Homo sapiens: one gene and its partners. The protein of the gene in region 1 purifies or fractionates together with the protein of each later gene. This does not show direct contact. Each region holds a gene or a part of one and is shown in the gene's direction. Other genes may lie near its edges.

Region 1 (6,202 bases):
ATGGTCAAAGCAGTTAAAAAACCAGCCCAGATTCTAGGGGAGGGAAATAAGCTCTACCTCTTGATGTGAGGAGCAGTCTGTATAGACCGAGAGGGAAGAAATTGTTGAGAGCCATCTTTGGAGACCACCACATGGAGGATTGAGAAAAAGCGTATTTCTGACTTACATTTTGGAAAGATAGTTCTAAATCATGGGGGATGCAGAAGAATATTTCTTCATGTAATAAATGGGAATTGCTTCTTAATGTGGTATTTTAAGAATTCAAATGCACAAAAGTTATCCCTTATGTTCTTCTTCTCTCCAGATCTGTTACCTAAAGCAATAAAAAATGGCCAGAGGATCAGTGTCCGATGAGGAAATGATGGAGCTCAGAGAAGCTTTTGCCAAAGTTGGTGAGTAGACCTGGTACCCCAAATTGCATCATTCTCTTCTTCACTGAGTAGCTTCAGGGTAGATTCAATGAAATGGGAACATGAGCAAAATTTCAGAGATGACAAGAAACCAGTAGTATTTGTTTAGAGGAGCTGGGAGAACTTATTTTTGAAAAATATGCTTCAATAAAATGACTTTCTCTATCAAAACATGGAATATGGACTCTACTCTTACATAGTTTGTTCCTGGAAATGGTTTGTAAGTCTCATCTTTTATATCTTGTCTTCTGTTTTGCTGTTTCCTTGATTTTAATACCATCACATACTTTCTCTTACTCTTTATCACTAAACCTGTGGTTTCCTTAAGAGTTTCTATAAGAGTTCTTTGTGGAAACAGAGGTACCTTATAGAAATTATGACTCTTTTACTGTGGATGTTGAAAGTAATGCTGGTGCCCCTATTCAGTAGCAACAGTCATCTTGTGAGATTCTGACTCTTCCCTGGGATCATGCCTTAATGTCTGAATGATAGCCTCTCTCGTCCCTTCACCTTCCATCTAGTCTTCCCTCACCTCTCTAAAAGCTGTTGCCTGAATCGTCCTGAAGCTTCAGTATATTGTGTACATTACAGATACTGATGGCAATGGATACATCAGCTTCAATGAGTTGAATGACTTGTTCAAGGCTGCTTGCTTGCCTTTGCCTGGGTATAGAGTACGAGAAATTACAGAAAACCTGATGGCTACAGGTGATCTGGACCAAGATGGAAGGATCAGCTTTGATGAGTTTATCAAGGTGAGTACCATGCAGAATACAAGGAGACACATTTGAAACTTGGAACTTGAATTCTGTTTTAAAAAATATCCAGAAAGACATTCCTTACCTCCTTGCTTCGACATTACATATTCTTTCCTTTGTGATTTTCTTGATCACTGCTTGAGTTTCTAAAGATACATTATATTTTTGCAGATTTTCCATGGCCTAAAAAGCACAGATGTTGCCAAGACCTTTAGAAAAGCAATCAATAAGAAGGAAGGGATTTGTGCAATCGGTGGTACTTCAGAGCAGTCTAGCGTTGGCACCCAACACTCCTATTCAGGTAGGCTCAACTCCTGGGTTGGAGCAGGATTTCAGGATTACAGATTCTAAACTTGGTATTCAAACCTAAGGGATGTAAACAAAGACAGAAGCAAACACAGCTTTATGGATGACTCCCAATTTTCCTGTGACTAAGTGGGTCAGTTCTGGGTACATAATATAGGAGCAGTCCTAGCTCTGGGTAGGGTCCAATACAAAATGATTTGATCAGCATTTAAACAATCATTAAAGGCTGCCCAGATTCCTTTCTAAATCTTATGGACAAAATTAGCTACTCAAGCTTCTATCTTTAAACTTCATGATAATTTTTAACACCTGCTAAGTGATCAAAAAATTATGTTTTCATTGATTTGGAATAAATTTGTAAATTTATTCCGAAGGCTGCCATCCAACAGCCATAATGGAAACTTCCAACAGGCCAAACAGTATAGTTGTTGCAACATTTCCAAAACTGAATTATTCAAAACGTTAGTTGATCTTAAAGATAAACTCATGAGGCCGGGCACAGTGGCTCACGCGTGTAATCCCAGCACTTTGGGAGGCCAAGGCGGGTGGATCACCTGAGGTCAGGAGTTAAAGACTAGCCTGGGCAACATGGTGAAACCCCGTTCTACTGGGTGCAGTGGCGCATGCCTGTAATCTCATCGACTCGGGAAGCTGAGACAGGAGAATCGCTTGAGCCCAGGAGGCAGAGGTTGCAGTGAGCCGAGATTGCACCATTGCACTCCAGCCTGGCGACAGAACAAGACTCTGTCTCAAAAAAAAAAAAAAAAAAAAAAAAGATAAGTCATGATTAAATACCATCTATAGTTGCTAAGACAACGTTTGGCCTTTTGTTTTTAAATACAGGAATTTTCAGAACCTTTGCTGGGTCAAATGTGCAATGTGAATCTTTAAGGCGGAGATACATTCACTACACAGTATTTCCCAAACTTTTATGACTCAGGATTTCTCTGAGGGACACTACTGTTTTCAAAAACTGTCAGTTTGGGAAACATAGTGCTAGGCTGTGAAGACATAACTTGAGTTTTTATTAAAACATCTAAAAATCACCTTCTGGCAGCTTTACTGTTAGGAAAAAAAGATTATATCCAAATGATTTTATTTTATAGCAATTTAATTATAATTGTATCAAGAAACTCAGAGGTACAATAAGGATTGTCCACAGTGATCCAACATTTAAACCAGCAGAGCTAAAAGCGGAATCCTGAGTTTTGTCCTGTAAGCATTATACCACATTTGTATTTATATGTGTATATATATATGTATACATGCACATATAAATAAAATATTTTTATTATTTATGTATTTATATATAGAAAATAAACATATGTATATATTTGCTTCTAAATGTAAATATATATCTGGATTATGCGTATATATAGGAACAGAGAGATAGTTTTGGCCGGGCGCGGTGGCTCACACCTGCAATCCCAGCACTTTGGGAGGCTGAGGTGGGCAGATCACGAGGTCAGGAAATCGAGACCATCCTGGCTAACACGATGAAACCCCGTCTCTACTAAAAATACAAAAAATTAGCTGGGTGTTGTGGCGGGCGCCTGTAGTCCCAGCTACGGGGGAGGCTGAGGCAGGAGAATGGCGTGAACCAGGAGGCAGAGCTTGCAGTGAGCCGAGATCGCGCCACTGCACTCCAGCCTGGGTGACACTGTGAGACTCCATCTCAAAAAAAAAAAAAAGAAAAGAAAAGAAACAGAGAGATAGTTTTTAAATCTGTTTGCTCTATGTTTTATGACTTGGAGTACACAGACTCAATGCCTATTTCCCAAGTGATCTGAGATTTTTAAATCTTAATAAATATGAGATGATAAGATAATGGACTGAATAAACTCACATCTCTCTGCTGGGAATGAGAATTTAAGATCCACATGCATAATTTTGTTTATAATAGAGTTTCACTTTGCAAATGAGTCACTTTAATCATTTACTTGCAGAGGAAGAAAAGTATGCCTTTGTCAACTGGATAAACAAAGCCCTGGAAAATGATCCTGATTGTCGGCATGTCATCCCAATGAACCCAAACACGAATGATCTCTTTAATGCTGTTGGAGATGGCATTGTCCTTTGGTAAATAATACTTCTTTCTTGGTTTCCAAAGAATTGCCCATTTTCTAGACCATCAACAATTAATCGTTATTTATCGTAGGCCAACTTTGTTTGGTGCTCAGCTGCACCTAGAAGGCTTTTCTGGACTTTCACTTGGCCAGGTCCAGGACAGCAAACTAAATTCAAAAACAATTTATAATGAGAAATGTAAAATTGCTATTGCTTGAGTGGAGAGGAGGGATAAACATTATAGAGATAAACATGGAAGATATAGTTATACCAAGTCAAAAGCATTAGATGTCTAATCAATGTATTAGATAATTAAGTGGGGGAAACTTATAAAATACTGATTAAATAATGACTATAGAAGGACATTAAAAAGTTTATCTGATGACAAGTTTAAAGTATAAAGTTGGATCAGGCATCAAGCGGAAATGTAGACATTATGTAAGCTCAGAAGTACATAGATAGTCTCTTCTATAATGAGGACAATTTTCCTGGTTATATATTTTTGGAATATATGCTGCTTGGCTTCATCTGAGCGTGGCTCACCATGAAAGCAGATAGAATTGATAATAGCAGCAGGATGATGGAAGAAGTCCTTAAACTGTAGTCCTTAAGCAAAGAAACCTTTGAGTGATGCACAGAAATCCACAACTCAAACATTGAGGACACCTGGAAAAGGGGGACTGCATCCTACCCACGGGAGGCCTCTAAATATGGTGCTGCTCAATGCAACGTGGTGTCTTTGAAAATACCTCTGTAGCTCTTGCTTCAGCAGGTTCTCTGTCATCACAGGCCAAGTTGTAAGTGAAGTGACTTGAGGTGCTCAATATGTGAGGGACTCAGGACTTAAAGGATAACAATGGGTGGGAAAGACATTGAGCTTTCTCCTCTGCTCTGACCAGAGCAATTCTACTTTTGATATTTTATTTATTAGTTTGTCCTGAGAATTCATTTTTAAAAGGTTCAATTGCTATAAAAAAATCAAAATTCTAGCTTTTAGGTTGCCACCCAAGGCACCCCATGGTCTTCCCCCAATCTGCTAGTTTTACCTTCTAAGACCCCTGTGACTCATTGGTACTCAGCCTAGGGCACTGAGAAGGATATAAAAATGTTATCATATGATTAGCTGAAGATACAAAGTTTGGTCCTGTGTCAAATAGAAATGTAGACAATAATAAGCTCAGAATTTTGTAGACAGTCTTTTATATAATGGGGACAATTTTCATGGCTAAGAAAATAAAGTACTTATGGTAGAATTACTTTGGTTATCCACCCAGAATTTCCTAATGTGCTAAGAAAATCAGGATAATTTTGCAGCTGTTTAGGTGGGAGAATGAAGTGGGGTCCTCATTTCCAACCTCAATATATGAATGTGGCTTCAGTAGTATTCACCTTTCCCGCAGATAGTTTGAGTCTAGTCAAACGGCATAACTGATTTTATATCTAAACATCACAGATTCTGTTGCTATCTTCTTTGATTATGGTATTGCTAGAATTTAAATTCAACGTTACTGGGCTCTGTTATTCAGAAGACTGCTTTCTTTAATTTAATTGTTTCTCTTTCAGTAAAATGATCAACCTGTCAGTGCCAGACACAATTGATGAAAGAACAATCAACAAAAAGAAGCTAACCCCTTTCACCATTCAGGTATGTCTTCCCACCGTTACCATAATACAGGATTTGTTTGGCATCAATGAGCATCATAACTGCTGAGTCCGCCTTTTTCAGGGGCTCAGACATCATTCGCAAAACCCAGGCTTTGGGCTGGTGACTTGTCATACTTCAGGGATAAAGGGATACATTTCTGAGCAGCAAAGAAGGGAGACTGGTGGAGTGGTAGCAGCTGGGGCTTTGTATGTTTGTTTTGGCCACTTAGGAATAAAATTCACTTTGGCTAAAGTTTTAACTCAAGCTTTCCTTAGCAATTTATCTTTGATTTGATGCCAAATAAACAGCATTTTAGATGAAAACATAAGCCTTTCTAAGAAGCGAGGGGGTGAAAAACGGGAAGTACTCTGGCAGCCTTCATAGTAATTTTGGCCACAGCCACGAGTATAATAAATATAACTTGCTTTTATTCCATCAATTTGTTGATTAACTGGAATAGTAACCAGCAGTAAGTGTATTTCTGTGTTGTGTTCCAATATTTTAACATTATCATAATTCTTTTGCTAAGAAACCATATCTAACTTCTTAAATCATGAACGATACATTATCTCCTGTGTGGATTTAAGCAACCTTGTGTACTTTAAAAATGGAAATGGTAACCAAATTGAGAACAATGATTAAACACATATGAATGCACTTAATGTTAAATTTACTCATAATCTTGACCATATATAGAAACAGTATTTTTCACTCATCATTTAAGCACTAGAACAAGGACCCACTTTTCTTCTGATAGTTCTTTTCCTAATTCACTGGCGGCCTTTGCTTTGTTTTTAATTTGCCAATTAAAACAATTTCTATACATCTCTGACATTGATATCTCTTCCTTTTTAAACTCAAGAATAGTACATACAGAGTCTGGACTGAAAACTCCCTTGACTCTATCTCGACTATATGTGAGTTACATTACCTGCATTGTTGTTACTCATAAGAACATAGAATCTATGAGTATGTGTGTGTATACTCAGGTTCCCTAGTTATTACAGATACTCAAC
Region 2 (6,202 bases), on another chromosome or scaffold:
ATGAAAACTTACCGTTACAAAATGATATTTTCTTAACCCAAGTAAATAAAATAGAATGAACTATATATAATATATATAATGAACTATATATAATTCTTCAAGATTCTAATGCATGCTTGTTTAGAGCTTGCTGTTAACCTAAGCAATGAGATAGCAATCCCTTTCATTATTTGTTGACTCCCCTTAATAGAGTACCTAATGAACATTGCCAACTTAAGAAAAAAATGTTTTTTTTTCTGCAATGTCAGCTCTGAAATTCAGCTTTGTTGCCTCTTTATAGGACAATTGCAGGCGAGCTGAAAATGTTCTTCGTTTATGGATCATTGAAGCCAAGGACCTTGCCCCTAAAAAGAAATATTTCTGCGAACTGTGCCTTGATGATACCCTCTTTGCTCGTACAACCAGCAAGACCAAAGCAGACAATATTTTCTGGGGCGAACATTTTGAATTCTTCAGCCTTCCACCTCTTCATAGTATCACAGTTCACATTTACAAGGATGTGGAAAAAAAGAAAAAAAAGGACAAGAATAATTATGTAGGGCTAGTCAACATCCCCACTGCCAGTGTGACTGGTCGCCAATTTGTAGAAAAGTGGTATCCAGTGAGTACACCTACACCCAACAAAGGAAAGACAGGAGGACCTTCTATTCGGATTAAATCACGTTTCCAAACTATCACCATTCTGCCTATGGAGCAATACAAAGAATTTGCAGAATTTGTCACCAGCAACTACACCATGCTGTGTTCTGTCCTTGAGCCAGTAATTAGTGTGAGAAATAAAGAGGAGTTGGCTTGTGCCTTAGTGCACATTCTTCAAAGTACTGGCAGAGCCAAGGTAAGTGGAAAAGGGGGATTGCAGTACCTGAAGTCTCTTCCCTACCTTTCATAAACCAAGATATGGATATTGTAGAAATCCAAATTAGAGAAATGTGCTTTACTATTGGTCAAAACAAGAAGAATTAAGAAGAAAACCTATTAGATCCAGAAAAGATGAAGATTATAAAACTAAACAAGTAAAATGGAGAGACCAGCAAATATTTAAAGCCAATTTGCATGAAACATAGATAACACAGCCAGCTCTTTCTTGTCTGACAAAATAAATGGTAGGATTGGCACGATAACCCTACAGCATGTTCAAGGTTCCTTATCTTTAATTTAGTTCTAGAGTGTTGTATGGTGGTTTTCTTCCTCACTGTATTTTATTTAAGTTTAACTGATGACTGTATCCTCTAGGCACAGAAGGAAGTATTCCAGAAGCATATTGAGTATTAGCAAGAGTCTTTGTGGGATTAAAATCTATATTTAGAATAAAAATCCAAGGGATATGATACAATTGGTAGCTGTTTCATGATACACTTATTTCACCTTGGATAGAAGTAAAAACTCAGGAATATTTTTTATTTAAAGGAGAAATATGCTGGTTGTGGGAAGAACAAAAACTAGTTGAGAGAGTCTTTGACCTATGAAGGATATTAACTAGGAAGAGTTACCGTTATACTGTATGCAAACTGGTCATGATAAAATTACATCTCAGATCCAAAGAAACTCACAGCTAGAATAATGTATTTAGAACCAAACAAAGTACTATTACTATTTCTTGATATGTCGGAATATATCAATATATTCAATATTTAGTCTCTTATCTGGCTTCTATGGATTATAACTTTTGTGTTTAAATTTACTTATGATAATCTTGGGCATTCTGTCATTAAAAAGCTTATGAGTTTGGAGCGAGGTGTCACTGAAATTTTGAATTGTATGGATATATTTCTACTTTTCAGTTGCTCAAGGTTCAGAATATACATTAAGACTTTTTTAAATGACTTAATACTGATTTACGTACATTTTAGGTAGAATAAACACCCATTTAAAGTGGAAAAGTTCAGTAAGCTTTGACCGATTTTGCACCCATCGAAACCACCACTATGATCAAGATACAGAATGTTACCGTTACCCCCAAGAGTTTCCTCCTGTCTCTTAGCATTAAGTTTAATAGTGATTCCTAAGTCTACAACTCTGTTATACTGTTAAGCTGCCCCAGAGTAAGTCCCATTGATGTTTAAAATGCTTAATTTTAAAGTAAAAGTAAATCAGCATATTCCTCCTATTTTGGCATTTGCAGCCCTTGAAATATCCAATAATTATATAGCATTCAAAATATATGATGTTATCACATTCAAACTGAACAACCAACATTGAGCTTTACTAGAAGTTCTTTAAGACTGTTGAGGAATGAAGCAGCTGTTTCTTTGCACCTTTATTTCCCCTTATGCTATCCTTCTGGATTGATGGATGGATGGACGGATGGATGGGTGGGCGGGCAGACAGAAAGATAGCCTAGACAATGACTTCAAGTGATGAGTTCAGTAGATTCTACATTGACACTGTGGACCGATTTGTAAGTATTATATATTGAACACCTAATATATGCCAGAAACTGTTAGGTGCTGGAGATATGGTGGTAAACAAAAACAGAAACTGGTTTTCTGGGGAAAATAAATATTAATCAAGTAATTACAGAAATAAATATGATTACAGTGAGAACTACAGAGGATAAAAAGAGAGATGATACTATGAAATGGAGCAAGGGGAGCTGACTAATGGAGTTCAGGGGCAATGTTGGTCAGGGACACCTTCACTGAGGAAATGATGTGTGAACTAAAATCCAAAGGATCCCAGGAATGAGCTACCTGACAGTGGGAGTGGAAGCAAGGGTGGGAGCAGAGCAGAACTGAGAACAGTATTTGGAAAAAAAAAAAAAAAGGCTTTGTGGTGAATAGAGAACATTGTGTGTGTTAGAAAGGGCTTGGTGTATTAAAGGACCTAAAAAGAAAAGGTACAAGGCTTGAAAGGTAGACAGAAACCAGAAAATATAGGGACTTGTAGACTGCATTCAGAATTATGGCCTTTATCAAAAGTGCAATGGAAAATCTTTGAGGGAATTTTAAATGTAGGGGTAGGAACACCTAACATTTTATCCTGATTGCTTTTTTTCCTTTCAGATGAATCTGATAGCTTTAGTTTTAAAGCAGCATTTCCAGGATGTCTGATATTTCAAAAGTCTCTTCTAATGTGTATTATTTATTCAGTTGCTTTCTGCCTGATTGAACATTATTCTACCAGGATTTTCTGACTGACTTGGTGATGTCTGAGGTGGATCGTTGTGGAGAGCATGATGTCTTGATCTTCAGAGAGAACACTATTGCCACCAAATCCATTGAGGAATACCTCAAGTTGGTGGGACAACAGTATCTTCATGACGCACTGGGTATGAAAGAGAAAAACATCTATTTTCTTTTATTTACTTTTCAGTTTTAAGCTATTTCACCCCCATGAGACGAATTGAGCTCAAATTCTGCATGTTATTTAGTTCTAGCTGACTCAGGTGTTAAGGTTTGAATCATGGCTGTAAGAAGTCTGCAGTACTCACCAGTAGAGAAATAATAATAAATGTAGAAACAGAAACCTTGTCAGCATACACTGCTACCCCAGGTCCCCAGCTTCATGATTCCAGGATGCACAGTAATATCAGCAGTGTCCACTGATAGATCTGAGGTGGTCTGTTTTGCCCAAAGTTTTGGGTGTTTATATGATGATATTATTACCTAGTCTTGAGAGTGTTACCCTGACATTTGTTATCATGCATGCAAAACTCTAATCAAAAGTGAAGAAACTCTTGCCACTTCCCACAACTCCCCCACAAATTTCTGCCTTTCTCTAGAATTTTTAACATAACTAATTTTTGTCCAATCAGTAGTTCTTGCTGACTAGGCTACGCACTTGCAGTTCCAGATTTGGTCATGAAATTGAGGCATTAACCGCTAGAGTAAGGTACTGTGCTGGTCACTTTAATATACATCATGATAGAGCAGATGTGAGTTCCTTGAAGGAAATAGCCCTTTGTTTTACCTCCATATCCCCACTACCTGCACACACTGTTGAGCAGCACTGTCCGATAGAAATATGACCCATGTGTGAATACTTTTATTTATTTTTATTTTTTGAGTAATTGTAAATTTTCTAGTAGTCACAGTATTAAAAAGGATGAAGAGAAACAGGTGAAATTGATAACATATTTCATTTGACCCAGTATATCCAAATACTATTTAATGGTTTAGAAGAATAAAAGTTATTAATTAGGTGTTTTACTTTTTTATTCTTTTTGAAAATCAGTGTGTATTTCACATGTATCACACATTTTAATTTGCACAAGCCATTTCTAATGCTCAACAGCCACGTGTGACTATCAAGAATAGAAAGTAAAAACATGTTGAATGATTGGAGAGATTTTTACCCTCGAGAAGTTTGCAATGTAAGGATATAACATTAGGGATATCTCTATACCAAAAAGAGACATTCTGTGTTCTTTCAAATAATTTTAAAAAAATTGAATCCAGCTGATAGAATTGTCAAACTTTCTGTGTGAAATACATTTATGTTTTGTATGTAGTTTGATGAATAGAAAGGTTAAAAACAGACATTGAGCAAGAGCAGATAAGATAAGAAGTAGCATGGGGGAAAGGACCCATAAACAAAAAGACATAGAGGTGGGACAGAACCAGGAATGTGTGGAATAAAACTATTTAGCTGGAAAAAGACATGAAAGAAACATGTGAACAACAACAACAAAAAGATTAAACAATAATTAGAACTAATTTGTGAAAACCTCAAATGCCTGGGTGAAGATTTAAAGTTTACAGTAATAACTGGAGAGCCACTGAAAGTTTTGAGCAGGTGTTTTCAGTGGAATTAACTTAGCAGACTGATTAAGACGAGTTGTATCCAGGCATGGTGGCTCACATCTATAGTTCCAGCTACTCAGGAGGCCAAGGTAAGAGAACTGCTTGAGCCCAGGAGTTCGAGGCAGCAGTGAGCTATGGTCACATCACTGCACTCCAGCCTGGGTGACAGAGAAAGACCTTGTCTTAAAAAAAATAAATAAATAAATAAAGGTGAAGAAAGCCTACTGAAAGCCAATCAATTAAGAAGCCATTGTAGGCTGGGCGCGGTGGCTCACACTTGTAATCCCAACACTTTAGGAGGCCGAGGCAGGCCCACCACCCAAGGTCAGGAGTTCGAGACCAGCCTGGCCAACATGCTGAAACCCCATCTCTACTAAAAATACAAAAATTAGCCAGGCATGGTGGCGGGCACCTGTAATCCCAGCTAAGGAGGCTGAGGCAGGAGAATTGCTTGAACCAGAGAGGTGGAAGTTGCGGTAAGCCAAGATTATACCATTGCACTCCAGCCTGGGAGACAAGAGCAAAACTCCTTCTCTTAAAAAAAAAAAAAAAAAAAAAAAAAAAAGCCATTGTAATAAGAAAGAATGAGACTCTGAATGACTGTAATCATGCAAGTAAGAATAGAGAGGAAGACGGATATGAGAAATATTAAGGTTGAACTGATAGAACTTGGCAAATTTTTCAGTTTGTGGGAAGCAAGGAGGGAACGAATATTACAGAGAATTGTGGGGTGTTGTGAGTGACTAGGGGGATGATGAGATTCTTAACAGGAATAGAAACCACAGAAGTAGTAGGTGTGAAACAGTGGAAATTACATATATATTCAATTTGAAGTTCTAGTAGGAAATCTCAGGGGTTTTAGATAGGCAATCTAAGATACCTGTCTAGCTGGCTGTTGGAAATTTGAGACTAATTTATGCTTGTGGAGAGGTTAAATGAAGCTGTAAGATTACCAGAGCAGGAAGAGAACAGGGCCAAGGATAGATCTTAGAGTGCACCTGGGTTTATGGTATAGAATGAAGAAGAGGAATCAGAGAAGTGATCAGAGAAAGAGAGAGCATCCAAAAAAGAAAGAAAACCAGGAAAATACTGAGTCCTAGATACCAATAGAGAAGAGAGCATCAGTAGAGTCAGAAATTATGGAAGGTAAAGAAAAAGAATGGATATTGCATTTGGCACCTTAAATATCACTAGTGATGGCTCACACTGGTTTCAGGAGGAAAGGAGGCAGGCTGTAAGGAATAGAGTGAGTCGCCATTCAAGAAACAGGATCACTGTGTTTACATGAAGCAGACACATTATAGTAGCTACTACAATTAGTTTCTGCTCTGAAGCAGATTTTTTGTCTTCCTGCTTATCTTCATATTTTTTTCTCTAATCATATAGACATTAAGAATGGTACAAAGAGCTTAAGAAAAGTACAAAGAGGTTTATAGTGTCATTTACATAAAGAGCTTATT
Region 3 (6,671 bases), on another chromosome or scaffold:
TTTAATTTTCAATGGCTTTTAAAATTCTTCTTATTAAAATAGAACATCTTATGGGTACCACTCTTCCCTTAACACATGGAAATTCTTATTGGCTTAAGAAGACCTTCAGTGAGGTAGGGCCTTTGTAGGCAGTTACATTTTATTGAGAGGATACAGTCCAACCATTTGAAGCTGCTATTCCTATATTCAAAAATCCAGGGGGGTTCCTACAGCTTTTTAATTTTTTATGCCTATATTTTTCCTGCAGTAGGTTTCCTACAGTTTCTACCACAAAATTCCCACATTGTGTAGCAATACAGTTTTAAGTGATGGACACAGAATAAGGACACAACAGAGGTAAGGGTGTGAGACAAAAGAGCCAGGGGAGAAATCCTGCCTCTGGGATCTTGCTCCAAAAGAGAAACCTCTTCTCCCCTAAAGGTTAGAAATATCACCCAGAGAGAACCTTCTCTCTGGGGGATTACTATGGAGAAGGCTTTTTACCAAATCAAGCATATTAAAGCCAAAATCGATTTTATCTCACAGATAATGATTTTCACAAATATCACTGTAAAGTTTCTAATGTTATAGCAGTACTTAGAACATTGTATTAACTGAATGTGTGTGTGTGTGTGTGTATTTTTTCATGCTCGTGGCGTGTATCAGTGATTTTCATCTTCTTTTTTGGTATGTGGTCATCTCAAGCTGCCCAACGAATGTTTTCACTTGACTTCTGTTGATACCTCCAACTTAACCTTTAAACAAAATGTCTACTGACTTTCCTAATTCCCTTTATTTGCTCCCTCCCTCACTCCCTTATCCTGCTTAGGCAGCCAGTCATTCCATTTTGTTAATCCTTCCTTTGTTATTTCTCTCACATTCATTTCTCTTTTCATTTTTATGGTAATCCTTTATTTAGGCCTTGATTATCTTGTGCTTATATCACACATACACAAATTGGTCTTCCTTTTCAGAATACAAATTGGTCTTCAAGGGTAGGTAGTGCAGAGACTGGATAGAGGAATGATTTTCCCACATACCAAATGAGGCCAAGCAAGGTAAGGTCAGACCAAGATAGGTGAGCTATGTTTGGGCAGAGTGGGGCAGAGGAGTTTGGGCTCTAATCCCCACCTCTTGGAAATTGGAGATGGGGGTGGAGATGCTTAGTTCCAGGCAGGATGAGGTGGGTCAGAGGAGCATATCAGGGATCCAGGGTGGAATTCCTGCTCCTTAGTATCTGCAGGTTAGAGTAGGGTCAGTCCCTCTAGATTCTGTGCCCTGCCCTTCTGGCTAAACACTTATCTTTCATTTATTTGTGGCTAGAGAGAGTACTAGAGAGACAGTAAAAGTTTGTTGAGGACAGATATTATACTTTTTCTTATAACTTACATGCGTGACATGGTATTTTATAGGTGATTTATAATGCTGCTATTAGAGATATTAATAGTCTTTATTTCAGAGTTAAATCTTTCAGGTCCTCTTTGAGACCCATCTGGCTCCCTTTGGAGATGATTATTTGTTAGATTATTAATGTTTCCTTGAGTCAAATTACATATTTTAGAGTTTATGGGACTTCCTCTGCTAAAAAAGGATACTATCTTCAGGAAGCAATGGATCCTAAAATTGACTTTGAAACACTCAACAATTTGCCAGCAACAATACTATATATCATCTTTTTAAAGTTTGTGTTTGACGGCATAATTTTTGACTTATTTCTCTCAGGATTCAAAAAAGAAAAATTTTGACTCATTTAGCCATGAAACAAAGGCCTTTACTTCTCAAGATCAAATCTAAGTTTTCCATGTTAACGTCCCTCATAATCTTGTCAAGCGCTATATTTTAAGGTATTTTAATTGACATAAATGTTCCCGAGACTTCTCACCAATACCAATTTGAACTTTAACACTGAAGGTGTTTAGCAGTCCTTGTATTTTCAAAATTAGAAGCCTTTGCAGGAGAAAATATTCAAATACAAAATTTCAACTTCTGCTTCAAACAACCTATTTTGTTACAAATAAGTGTTTCTGAAGAACCTCTTAATACTTTTCTGTTACCCCCCTTATCTGTTAGTCTGCTGAGACTAGATATTCAAATATTCCAAAAGCCAGAGTGTATGCAAGTTCACTTTCATCTCACTTGTCATAGGAATTTAAACATTAAGCCTCAAAGTATGGCACCCTATATGTCTTTTCAAAAACAACAACAAACAACCACATTGTGACTACTAGATGAGGTAAAATTTGTAATAACAGAATCAAAAAAGTCAACCCTAACTTTTCAGCGCTTGAACTCCCAATCACCCCCACTAAAGGCTTCTTCGTTAACCTTGAATCATAAGAATCACTGATCATCGAGTAAGTAAGTGTTCGGGAGATATGACTGTGAGATCCAGCTTTGTAAATAATTTCTGGATTTTTGGGGCGAGTCATTTCATCTCTCTGATTCTTAATCTCTTCACTTAAAAATGAGGGACTTGGAGTATCAGATGATTTCTAAATTTCTTCTTACTCAAAGTCTATTATTCTGATCCCAAAGAAGAAATCGAATCCTTCTCAATACATCCCAAATTGGATATTCTGGATAAGAAATTTTGAAACCAAGTCACACGAAGAGTATGTGAGGGATAAGAAGTCTAGTTTGGGGAAGGGTAAACATTATGTACGAAAAAGAAATGTCTTAAAAGAAAGCAGGCAGGGTGAGCGAGGAGGCTGAAGAGTCGCTCCATAAACTGAGGCAGAAGGAGCAGCCGACAGCAACGCCTACCGCACCCGGAAGGCTCAAGGAGGCGCCCTGGGCAGGGAACTTCCGGTTGCGGGGAAGGGCGGCGTCCTCTCCTAGGGACTTGTCGCACGCGGCTTCTCGTCGCGTTCCGTCTTGCACGCCTCGCAGCCTAGCTCCGCGCGAGTTCCAGGCGCTCAGCACCGGAGCAGCGCCCCGGCAACCATTGAGGCGTCACGGTTCGTCACGGGATTCGGAGCCGGGCGGCTACGGGCGGGGTGTCGCAGCTCTCTTCGACGTACCTGTCCTCAGGAGCCGCGGCGGCGACTGCGCCTCGGACGGCCGTCGGGGCCGAGAACCATGAGCCCCAGGGGCACGGGCTGCTCCGCCGGGCTGCTGATGACTGTCGGCTGGCTGCTTCTGGCGGGCCTCCAGTCCGCGCGCGGGACCAACGTCACCGCTGCCGTCCAGGATGCCGGCCTGGCCCACGAAGGCGAGGGCGAGGAGGAGACCGAAAACAACGACAGCGAGACCGCGGAGAACTACGCTCCGCCTGAAACCGAGGATGGTGAGGGCGGGAGCTCCCTTGCGGGGCACGCGGAGGCCCCTGTTGACGGAGCAAAGGCCTGCTCTTTGCCTGAGAACCATAATTATGTGTGTTAACGTCAGGAGAGCTCTCTCTCATACTTCAGCCCCGAGTTTGTCCCTTTCTTGCATCCTGTGGCCTTGAAGAAGAATGTGCTCATTCTCCCAGGCCACAGCAAGATACACAGATAAGCACGTATATAGAAATTGCTATAGAAACACTTCTAAATATTGCTTTGGACAAGGAAAAAGATTTTTTTTCAGGGTGGGAGGTAGCCTTCCAACAAGAGGAATCATTTTGACTCCTCTTGCAGTCACTTTCCCTTCTCATAGTAGATTTTTTTTTTCAAGTTCCAAGTTGCTTGATTTCCACATTTGCACTTGGGGTTGCAATGGAATTCAGAATCCCCCTTTACGACGATACACCCAGATAGACCAGTATGCCGACAAAACTGCCCAGAAGCCCCATGGCAGCTTCCTGCAGCTCCTAGCCTTGAGCACCTCTGCATTGTGGTGTTTGATTGGTATGTGCGGCCTCGGACAAAGGAATGGAGCAGTAGAAAACACCTGTCAAGGGATCCAGCTAGTGGCTTTGTTAGATGCTACATATTAACCAAGGAACAATGAGCCCCCCGCTTGGTACATACATTTGCTTTTTTTTCTGCTGGCTCATTAAGCAATAAAACTTGACAGGCTGTTGTACATGTCATATTGATTAGTAACTCACATTCTAGCAGGTAGAAGGTCAGCAGCAGGTTTGCTGCCTTCTCAAGAAAGATTATTCCTTTCCCTTCTAAATGACCCAGCTGCAATTCTTTTAATATTGTTTGCATTCTCATATCTCTTCAGTCTATACATATCGAGTGACTGCTGTGTCTACCAGCCTTTCTTTCATTTCCTGATAGTGATCCTCAGCACCAACAGAAAGAAATGAACTGTCTGAGGTTAACAGTGGGATCGAGGTTTGCACGGCCTTGTAACATTATACTACAGAGAGCTTAAAAAGATCCTTGACTTCGGAAATGTGAAAAAGAAAGATGACTAGGAAAGAAGAGAACACGTCCTAAAGCATAGTAGCTATTGCTTCATTCTCTTCTTTAAAGTAATTGAATTAACAATTTTAGTATTAAACTGGCCAAGAAATACTTCTAGCTATAAAATGCTAAATATTATTTAGGCTAAACTCAGGCAATAAAGTTATAATGTCTTACCTTCAAATTAAAATGTAGGTTAGTTACTTATTCTCTGAGTCACAGTTTCCTCATCTACGGACTTCAAGGAATCCATGTACTTTGTGGGATTTTAATACATACTATTTCATGCATAAGTGCTTTTTCTTGGGGAGCGAGAGAATCCAAAACTTTAAACAATCTGAGGTGTTATAGGTCTGAAAATTTCCAGAACCATTATTGAAATTTGCACTGTCCCCTTAACCCTCAGTGGATCAGTAGAAACAGTTATCCCCATTTACTATCCAGTGGACCTTTAATTTTTTTTTAGTCATTTAAAAATAATTTACAAATAAGAATAAAGGGATAGTGAAAACAACTGTGTTAGAAATTTCAAGAAGAATTTAAACATGGAAAAATTCAAATTTTTATTCCATATATCCTAGTTTTGAAGGTGTATGTACTCTAACTGGGCAAAGTACTTTGAATGCAACTAAGTGCTCAACTGTTAAGCATGAACCTGGAATGCATTCATCATGTTAATACTGATTCCAGATTTTGAGTGCATCGTTAATAAATTCTAGCTTATCATTAATCTTGGTTCTTTTTGCACTTGTATTGTCAAAAAAACCAACACTTTTGAAAACTACAAAGGCATATATTTTGTTGAAGAGAAAGCCATCTTCTTTTCTTCATAATTGGAAAATATTTTCATCTTTAGATTTATAAACACCAATTAGAATGATTGGTCCAATGAATTTTACTCATTTCTACATAATCTTTTCTTTCAGTCACCTTTATATACATATCTTTCATCACAATATGTTCATTTACAAACCTTGGCAAATAAATGTTGGTGCATAAACGTTATAAAAAGGGAAAGAATACCGTCCTCATCCTTTTAGCGAAACAGTATGGCACAAGTTATTGTCACAGTATATTTCAGGATTAAATCTTTCCTGTTGTCAGGCTAACTACATGATAATACCATATATTCTTTTCATCCCCAGAAATATAATGTTTACTCATCAATTCTTAAGTTAGAGAAAATTCATCTAGTATATTCATCCAAGATAATCATCATCTCTCATTGAGATTTTGCTTATACAATCAATTTCATCATCATCATTAGCATCCAAAGTGCTGTTATCTGTCTCTTTTCATCTTCTGATTCGTTCAATAATTGTGAAATGTTTTTCTCTGTCAGTTTTCTTCTCTTTGCCATTATGGGCAAAAAATGAAAAATTGTGAAATCTCAACTGTGTTCAATAAAAGCCAAAAATAGACTACAAGGAGGATACCTCTAGACTTCTTTTGTATCTTCTTGAAAGATGATGCAATATCTTGGGCAAAGCAATATGAAAACATGGGATGTTGTAAAATAGCTTGTGTTAGTGTAATTCTTTCACCATTACATTATTTTTCTAGGCAATTCCAATCATTCTTTCATTTTTAAATTTTAGTCATTTAAAAATGTAGTTGAAAATAATGAGCAATACCATCATTATGGATGATGAAATATCACAATGTTTCAAGATAAAGAAAAATCATTAAGATATTAGATTTATGGCCAGGGGCGGTGGCTCACGCCTGTAATCCCAGTGCTTCGGAAGGCCGAGGTGGGCAGATCACAAGGTGGAGATCGAGAGCATCCTGGCTAACACGGTGAAACCCCATCTCTACTAAAAATACAAAAAATTAGCCGGGCGTGGTTGCGTGTGCCTGTAGTTCCAGCTACTCAGGAGGCTGAGGCAGGAGAATGGCGTGAACCCAGGAGGTGGAGCTTGCAGTGAGCCGAGATTACGCCACTGCACTCCAGCCTGGGCAACAGAGCGAGACTCTGTCTTAAAAAAAAAAAAAGATAATAGATTTATATCCTTATACTTTTGTTATACCTTGTATACCATGTAATATACCTTTTAAATATATCTTTTATACAAGTATACCCTTAGATTTATAAAAAGGGGCCAATAGACCTACATAGTAATTGCAAAATAGAAAGTTGTAGTCTATACAATGGGTTTTATCCTATACAAATATAACTATATGTTATTTTTGTCTTGGAATACTTCTAAGGAAGAACAGAAGTCATAAAATATCAGCCTTTCAAATCAACTGTCAGAAACTGAAAAACTCAAATTGCACTCTGATGATATATACCAAAAGTTACCATGTGCTGTCCTGAACTGAAGAGAACATTTCAGGATCTGGCCACAACTA
Region 4 (6,202 bases), on another chromosome or scaffold:
CAGACTTCTATAATTGTCTGGTGTTTTGGAGTATTATCAAAGTCTGAATTGCCCTAAATATCATCTTAAAGTTGCCTGATTCTAACCCTTTTGGGAATTACATCCACAGTTTAACCCATTCCTTTGTGTCTAGGTTGTACTTCTGTTAAAAACTCCTTTCAGGTAGCTAGCTAGTTTCAGAAGAGTCAGTTATAAGCCTCATAACTGTACTCTGCCTCCACCATTTATTTGCCTATGCCTTTGCATGTGAAGTTCACAAAACCTTTTTCTTAGCATATTATTTTATCTTTTTAAATTCACTTTTTCATTATCTTCTTGAGTAGTGTCTTTAAATGCTGGCAGTTTATCCAGTTTGTTTGGAATTGTGGAATTAATAATTGTTGTGAATTTGTTTGGTGAGGAGTGTGTACCCTAAACAGATTGTATAAAAGTATTAGCTTTTATGGAGTGGCTTTCATTTACACCTGATTTAGAATTCTGTATAAGTTCAACAGTATCAGTTATTTTGATCTAATAGATGTGGAGTTTTGAGGTATAAAAATACAGAATCATTGTTACCAAATGCTAAAACTGCTGTAGAGCATCAAATGCAAATAAATAGATGATACATGAGTTCATCAAAAACAATTTATAACTAAAATGTTTTTTATATATTTGCTCTTTGTTTCATAGACTGAAGGGGAAAAGTTGCTTTTAACTGTTACTAGTTAAGAGATAGGTTAAGGTGAACGGATGGAAAGAAGAAATGTTGAGCATTTATATAAGAGGCTATGTAATGTGTGAGAATAGAGGTCGATCTATAGCAATAAAGATGAACTTTTTAGTTTAATAAAAGAGAATTTGATGGACGCCCTGGATCCTAAATTTGTATGTAGTTTGTTAGCACTTAAATAACTGCCCATCTGAGTTAAGGGTTTGCGTTGGTTAACTCATTCAAAAACATTGGTTTTAATGCCTGGAGTGACATCTAATCCATGCAGCCATTTTCCTGCTGTGTTACTCTTCATCCTTTATATGTTGTTGCTTTTGGCTTCTGGTTTATTAGGGAATGGAAGCATTTATCATCTTATTCAATTGTAATACTTGGTTCTTTATTCTCTTCAAAATCTATAAGAACTTGATAAAGACTTTTTAAAAATTTTAAATGACAAGTCTATCAATCATGTGCATCAAAATAGGTGTCCCAAAAGAGTTTAGTGCATGCAGTTTTAAGCTCTTAATAACTTTAAAAGATAAGTACTATAAACTTACAAAAGGCATCACCTAAAAACTAAATGGTTTCAATTTCTTTTATATCGATTTTATGAATTTTGAAAAATTAAATTTTTTGAGATACTTTATCTCATTTTTTGAGATACTTTAAGTATCTCATTTATGAGATACTTTAAGTATCTCATTTATGAGATACTTTGACACTTTAAGAAACACTTCACTGAAAAGTACCTCAAATTTATGAGATACTTTCTGAGTGACACTTTCTCAGTACCATGGATCAGTAGGGGAGATCCTCCTGCCTGGCCACTGTGTACCTGGTCTGTATCCATTAGATATTTTTTCCCCCAGGAGTCATTTCAGAACTGTCAAGTGTGCATCAAAACCTCTTTTTGGATTATCTTAAGCTAGAGTTGCAAACTCAATCCTTTTTATCACTGAGTAACAGCTGATAAAGATTTCTAAGAAGTTAAAAAGTCAACTGAACTAATAGGTAGCACAAAAACCTTTGGTTGTGTTCAGTTTTAAGAAGGTACATGTATCAATATTTTTCAAATTTGATGCTAATTACGTGTGCCTGGTAGGTGTCTTATTGAACAACACAGAGAATATTTCCATCATCATGGTAAGTTCTGTTGGACAGTGCTGCTTTGCATTATTATAGCAATGTGGGTTTTTCTATAATGCACCCAGGTCATTTCTAATCTAATTTGAATCCATGCAGCTTAATAATCCTTTACTTTTAATTGAAGCAGACATCTGTTTGATGCTTTTGAAAATCAAACAAGATGTTAAATAGACTATAAATCTTTTACTCTGTATAATATTTAATTTTGCATGATGGGATATCTTAAAGCTTGGAAATTCTATTACAGGGAATCCCTGGAGATAGAGAAAGTCAGGCTGTGGTTGACCCCCCTCAAGCAGCTAGTACTGGGGCTCCTCAGTCTTCAGCAGTGGCTGCAGCTGCAGCAACTACGACAGCAACAACTACAACAACAAGTTCTGGAGGTAAAGCGGAATCTTCTGGATGGGGAGGGAATGGCCCTGAATTTTTAGTGTAAAATAATTTAACCTGAAATACTTCAGAAATGACGTTCATTCCCAGAGCAGTCGAATAATTCGTTAAGTTCTCTCTTCACTAATGTTTGAGAAAGGCCCAAAAGAAACTTTCCCAAGTGGATGTAAAAGGTATCCTTGCTGATATTAAACATCAGTGTTGCAGTTTTGCCGAAGGGCATATTCTGTTTTATTTGTTTTAAGGAAAAGATGCTTTCCAGTTTGTATTTAGTGTTACTTTCTGATGCCATTCAGAATGGTTTGCTCACTTTGTCTCTTACTCTCTCCATAAATGTTACAAAGTGTATGTAATTTCAAAGCCAGCAGGATTTTAGTAATTATACAGCCAAGGAAATGAAACCGTGAGAGGTTTAAAACCTTGTATCTAGAGGAGAAAGCAAAGCTTGAATTGAAGTCTCTTTACTGGGGTGCTGACCATACCCCACACATTGCTATAGGTCTGACTACAGAGCAAAGCCTGGAACCTGCGGTCAGCTTAGGAATTACGCAGTGTTCTCCTTCGTTCGTTCTTCTGTATATTAATAAAGTAATTTAAACTGTTGATCTTGAAAAGGCCATTCTTCCATGCATTTCCTAGCTCTGATAATGATAGTCACCTCTGGTTGACAAAGGTCACTCAGTGCTTTGTGTACAGTCTCCCAAGGACAGGCCCTTTGTTTGTTGTGATTCAGCATATGGGAGTGGAAAGAGATGACCACAGCTCTGCTTTGGATTTGGGGTCCTGTTCCTTTCAGCACTTATTAGGTGACATAGTCTCTAAGTCTCGTTGCCTTCACCTGTAAAGCTGGTATTATATATGGAAGAACAAAAAACCCATGTGCTGTGGTCATTTCAATTGGAATGATTGTCTTCCTGAATAGGAAATTACAACATACATCTAAAAATTCTCTTTTATTCATTAGTAACCTCAAAAACAATTCCTGTATGTACGATTTTTGGTTTCCTATAGCATAACCAGACAAGTACCAGCACCCTGAAAAAGCCAGAAGTTCTGTATTTTATATTTTATTTGGCATTATTAACATTTATTATTGTGAATGGATTTTAGACTGAAGAGTTTAGATATATTAGTACTAGATTGCCATACAGCTTATTTATCCGAGTTTTTGTAGTTCACAAATGTTTGAAAATTAATGGTAATAACCGGAAGTCTTCCTTAATGTAAGTTTGGATTAAAGTTTCTCCTGATTTGCAAAACCTGACCTCAGACTTTAAATATCTTTTTCTTCTTTGGTTTCTTGAATTCCTAGGAATTCAAGCTCAGATTGTGTTCTTTTAGGGGTTTTCATTGTTTATAAAGTAAGTGAGTTTTTGTTTTTGTTGTGGTGTATATTTTTCTTAGGAACTTTTAAGCAACAGGAACAACTTTTAGTACTTTTTATTTTGATAGAACACACACAGGAGACAAGTTTCTAGTATTATTTTATAACGTTGAGTGCCAAGGGCAATTATAGGAAAGTTTGGTTCATATTACAGTCAGCGTTCTGCACTCCCTGCCTTTGCTAATAGGAGTAATTTTTGCCGTATAAAACTTGCAAGTTGGTACAGTTGGAAGATTTCATCATTATTTACTTCATTTTATTACATCTGAGAACTCAAATCATTTTTTCTTTGATAGTGTTTGCTGTCTAAATGTATTATTTAACCACTGTTTGTGTATGTATTTACTGCTTTTGTTTAGAAATGTTTATGTGTATTTTAGGACATCCCCTTGAATTTTTACGGAATCAGCCTCAGTTTCAACAGATGAGACAAATTATTCAGCAGAATCCTTCCTTGCTTCCAGCGTTACTACAGCAGATAGGTCGAGAGAATCCTCAATTACTTCAGGTGACTAATCAGTGTCAGTTTCACAAGTGATTTAGAGTGTGTCACAATTTGAAAAAGTCCATGAACGGTCCTTCCCCTCCTCAAATACAACTCTGTATTTGAGAATGTGAATGTTTTCTTCCAAGCTACACTTAGATATTGTAATCTAGATAGGTGTACTAAAAAAACAGTTGGGATATGGAGGTTGGGTTAAATTAAGTTGACCAAATAGTAGTAAGTTTGGGAAACATTTTATATTTCCTTTTTGGAGATTCCCACTACACATTAATATGTTAAAGAATTTGGGAAGCTGTTTAACAGAGAAACTGCCTAACTTTAAATCACTTTTCACAAGCTTATTACTCAGTTCCTTTTTCTTAGGAACTTTTAAGCAACAGGAACAACTTACTCTTAGAAAAAATAGCTGTGGGGCTTCTTTAGTGATCAGATCACCAAGTATTTGAATTTTATACAGCATTTTAATGCCCACTAGTGTGGAAGGTAAAAAATACATGCAAGTATTAAGAATAAGTTCTATTCTTATAGTCCCACAGTAGTTTTTTTTGTTTGTTTTTTGTTTGTTTTGTTTTTTTAAGCACAGGAGGCTCAGAGCACTTAAGAATTTGAATTTCTTCACTGTTTACTTTGCCCAAAAGTACTGAATTTCTTTACTATTGTATAAGAAATCACATCCTTCCAAAGACTGAATAATCCAGAATCACTAAATTACGTTTGCAAAAGTGTAGCCTTTTCTCTTAGTAATATTTAGAATTTCTCTGTTCCTGCAGATACTTAATATCAGTGTATTATTTTTCTCTGTCCTTCATATCACCACAGCAAATTAGCCAACACCAGGAGCATTTTATTCAGATGTTAAATGAACCAGTTCAAGAAGCTGGTGGTCAAGGAGGAGGAGGTGGAGGTGGCAGTGGAGGAATTGCAGAAGCTGGAAGTGGTCATATGAACTACATTCAAGTAACACCTCAGGAAAAAGAAGCTATAGAAAGGGTGAGTTTAAGTAAAACTTTAAAAAAATTAGTTCTTGGCTGGGCTCATGCCTGTAATTCCAGCACTTTGGGAGGCCAAGGCAGGTGGATCACCTGAGGTCAGGAGTTCAAGACCAGCCTGGCCAACGTGGTGAAACCCCATCTCTACTAAAAATACAAAAATTAGCTGGCGTGGTGGCACATACCTGTAATCTCAGCTACTTGGGAGGCTGAGGCAGGAGAATTGCTTGGACCTGGGAGGTGGAGGTTGCTGTGAGCCGAGATTGTGCCACTGCACTCCAGCCTGGGCAACAGAGTGAGACTCTGTCTCAAAAAAAAAAAAAAAAAAAAAAAAAAAATTCCTTAGTCACACTAGCCCCATTTCAAATGCTCAGAAGTCACATATTAATAATAAGGTTTTTCTATAATTTCTTTCAATAGTGTCCTGTAGTTTTCAGTGTAGAAGTTGTGTAATACTTTTGTTAAAATTATTTCGAAGTATTTTTATTCTTTTTGATGCTGTTATAAATGGATTTTTCTCTTAATTTCATTTTCAGACTGTTCATTGCTAACTATATAAAAATACAATTTAATTGTGTATATTGATCTTTTATCATAAAACCTTCTTGAACTGTTATTTATTCATTAAGTAGTTTGTGCATGTGTTCATTAGGATTTTCCATATACAAGGTCATGTCATCTGCACATGGAGACAGTTTTACTTCTTTTCCAATATGGATACCTTTTATTTCTTTGTCTTATTTAACTGCCCTATCTGGAGCCTCCAGTATATTATTAGACTAGCAAGAACCAACAACATCCTTGTCTGGTTCTTGATCTTAAGGGAAAGCATTCAGTCTTTCATCACTAAGTATGATATTATCTATGGGTTTTTTGTGGATGCCCTTTATCAGATTGAAGAAATTCTCTTCTGTTACTAGTTTGTTCATCACGAAAAGGTGTTGGATTTTGTCAAATTTTTTTTCTTTCTTTATTAAGATGATCATGTGATTTTTGTCCTTTAGTATGCTTTATTACATTGATTGATTTTGTATGTTGAACCAACCTTGCATTTCTGAGATAAATTTTACTGGTTACAGCATATGATCTTTTTT

The links.
Region 2: the proteins of LCP1 (region 1) and RASAL2 fractionate together in Homo sapiens (co-fractionation; one large-scale study listed by BioGRID). This does not show direct contact.
Region 3: the proteins of LCP1 (region 1) and SPACA1 purify together in Homo sapiens (co-immunoprecipitation; one large-scale study listed by IntAct). This does not show direct contact.
Region 4: the proteins of LCP1 (region 1) and RAD23B fractionate together in Homo sapiens (co-fractionation; one large-scale study listed by BioGRID). This does not show direct contact.

Annotation. Positions count from the first base shown.
Region 1 is NC_000013.11:46,153,789-46,159,990, reverse strand, and holds part of LCP1 (plastin-2), read left to right. Parts: intron 1-298; exon of another isoform or gene 299-304; 5' UTR 305-328; coding exon 329-392; intron 393-1,001; coding exon 1,002-1,165; intron 1,166-1,339; coding exon 1,340-1,469; intron 1,470-3,420; coding exon 3,421-3,553; intron 3,554-5,104; coding exon 5,105-5,186; intron 5,187-6,202.
Region 2 is NC_000001.11:178,442,395-178,448,596, forward strand, and holds part of RASAL2 (ras GTPase-activating protein nGAP), read left to right. Parts: intron 1-280; coding exon 281-835; intron 836-3,123; coding exon 3,124-3,268; intron 3,269-6,202. UniProt on the Homo sapiens protein: Inhibitory regulator of the Ras-cyclic AMP pathway.
Region 3 is NC_000006.12:88,044,849-88,051,519, forward strand, and holds the start of SPACA1 (sperm acrosome membrane-associated protein 1 precursor), read left to right. Parts: upstream 1-2,992; 5' UTR 2,993-3,057; coding exon 3,058-3,265; intron 3,266-6,671. UniProt on the Homo sapiens protein: Plays a role in acrosome formation and establishment of normal sperm morphology during spermatogenesis. Important for male fertility.
Region 4 is NC_000009.12:107,319,896-107,326,097, forward strand, and holds part of RAD23B (UV excision repair protein RAD23 homolog B), read left to right. Parts: intron 1-2,087; coding exon 2,088-2,223; intron 2,224-3,994; coding exon 3,995-4,122; intron 4,123-4,938; coding exon 4,939-5,109; intron 5,110-6,202. UniProt on the Homo sapiens protein: Multiubiquitin chain receptor involved in modulation of proteasomal degradation. Binds to polyubiquitin chains.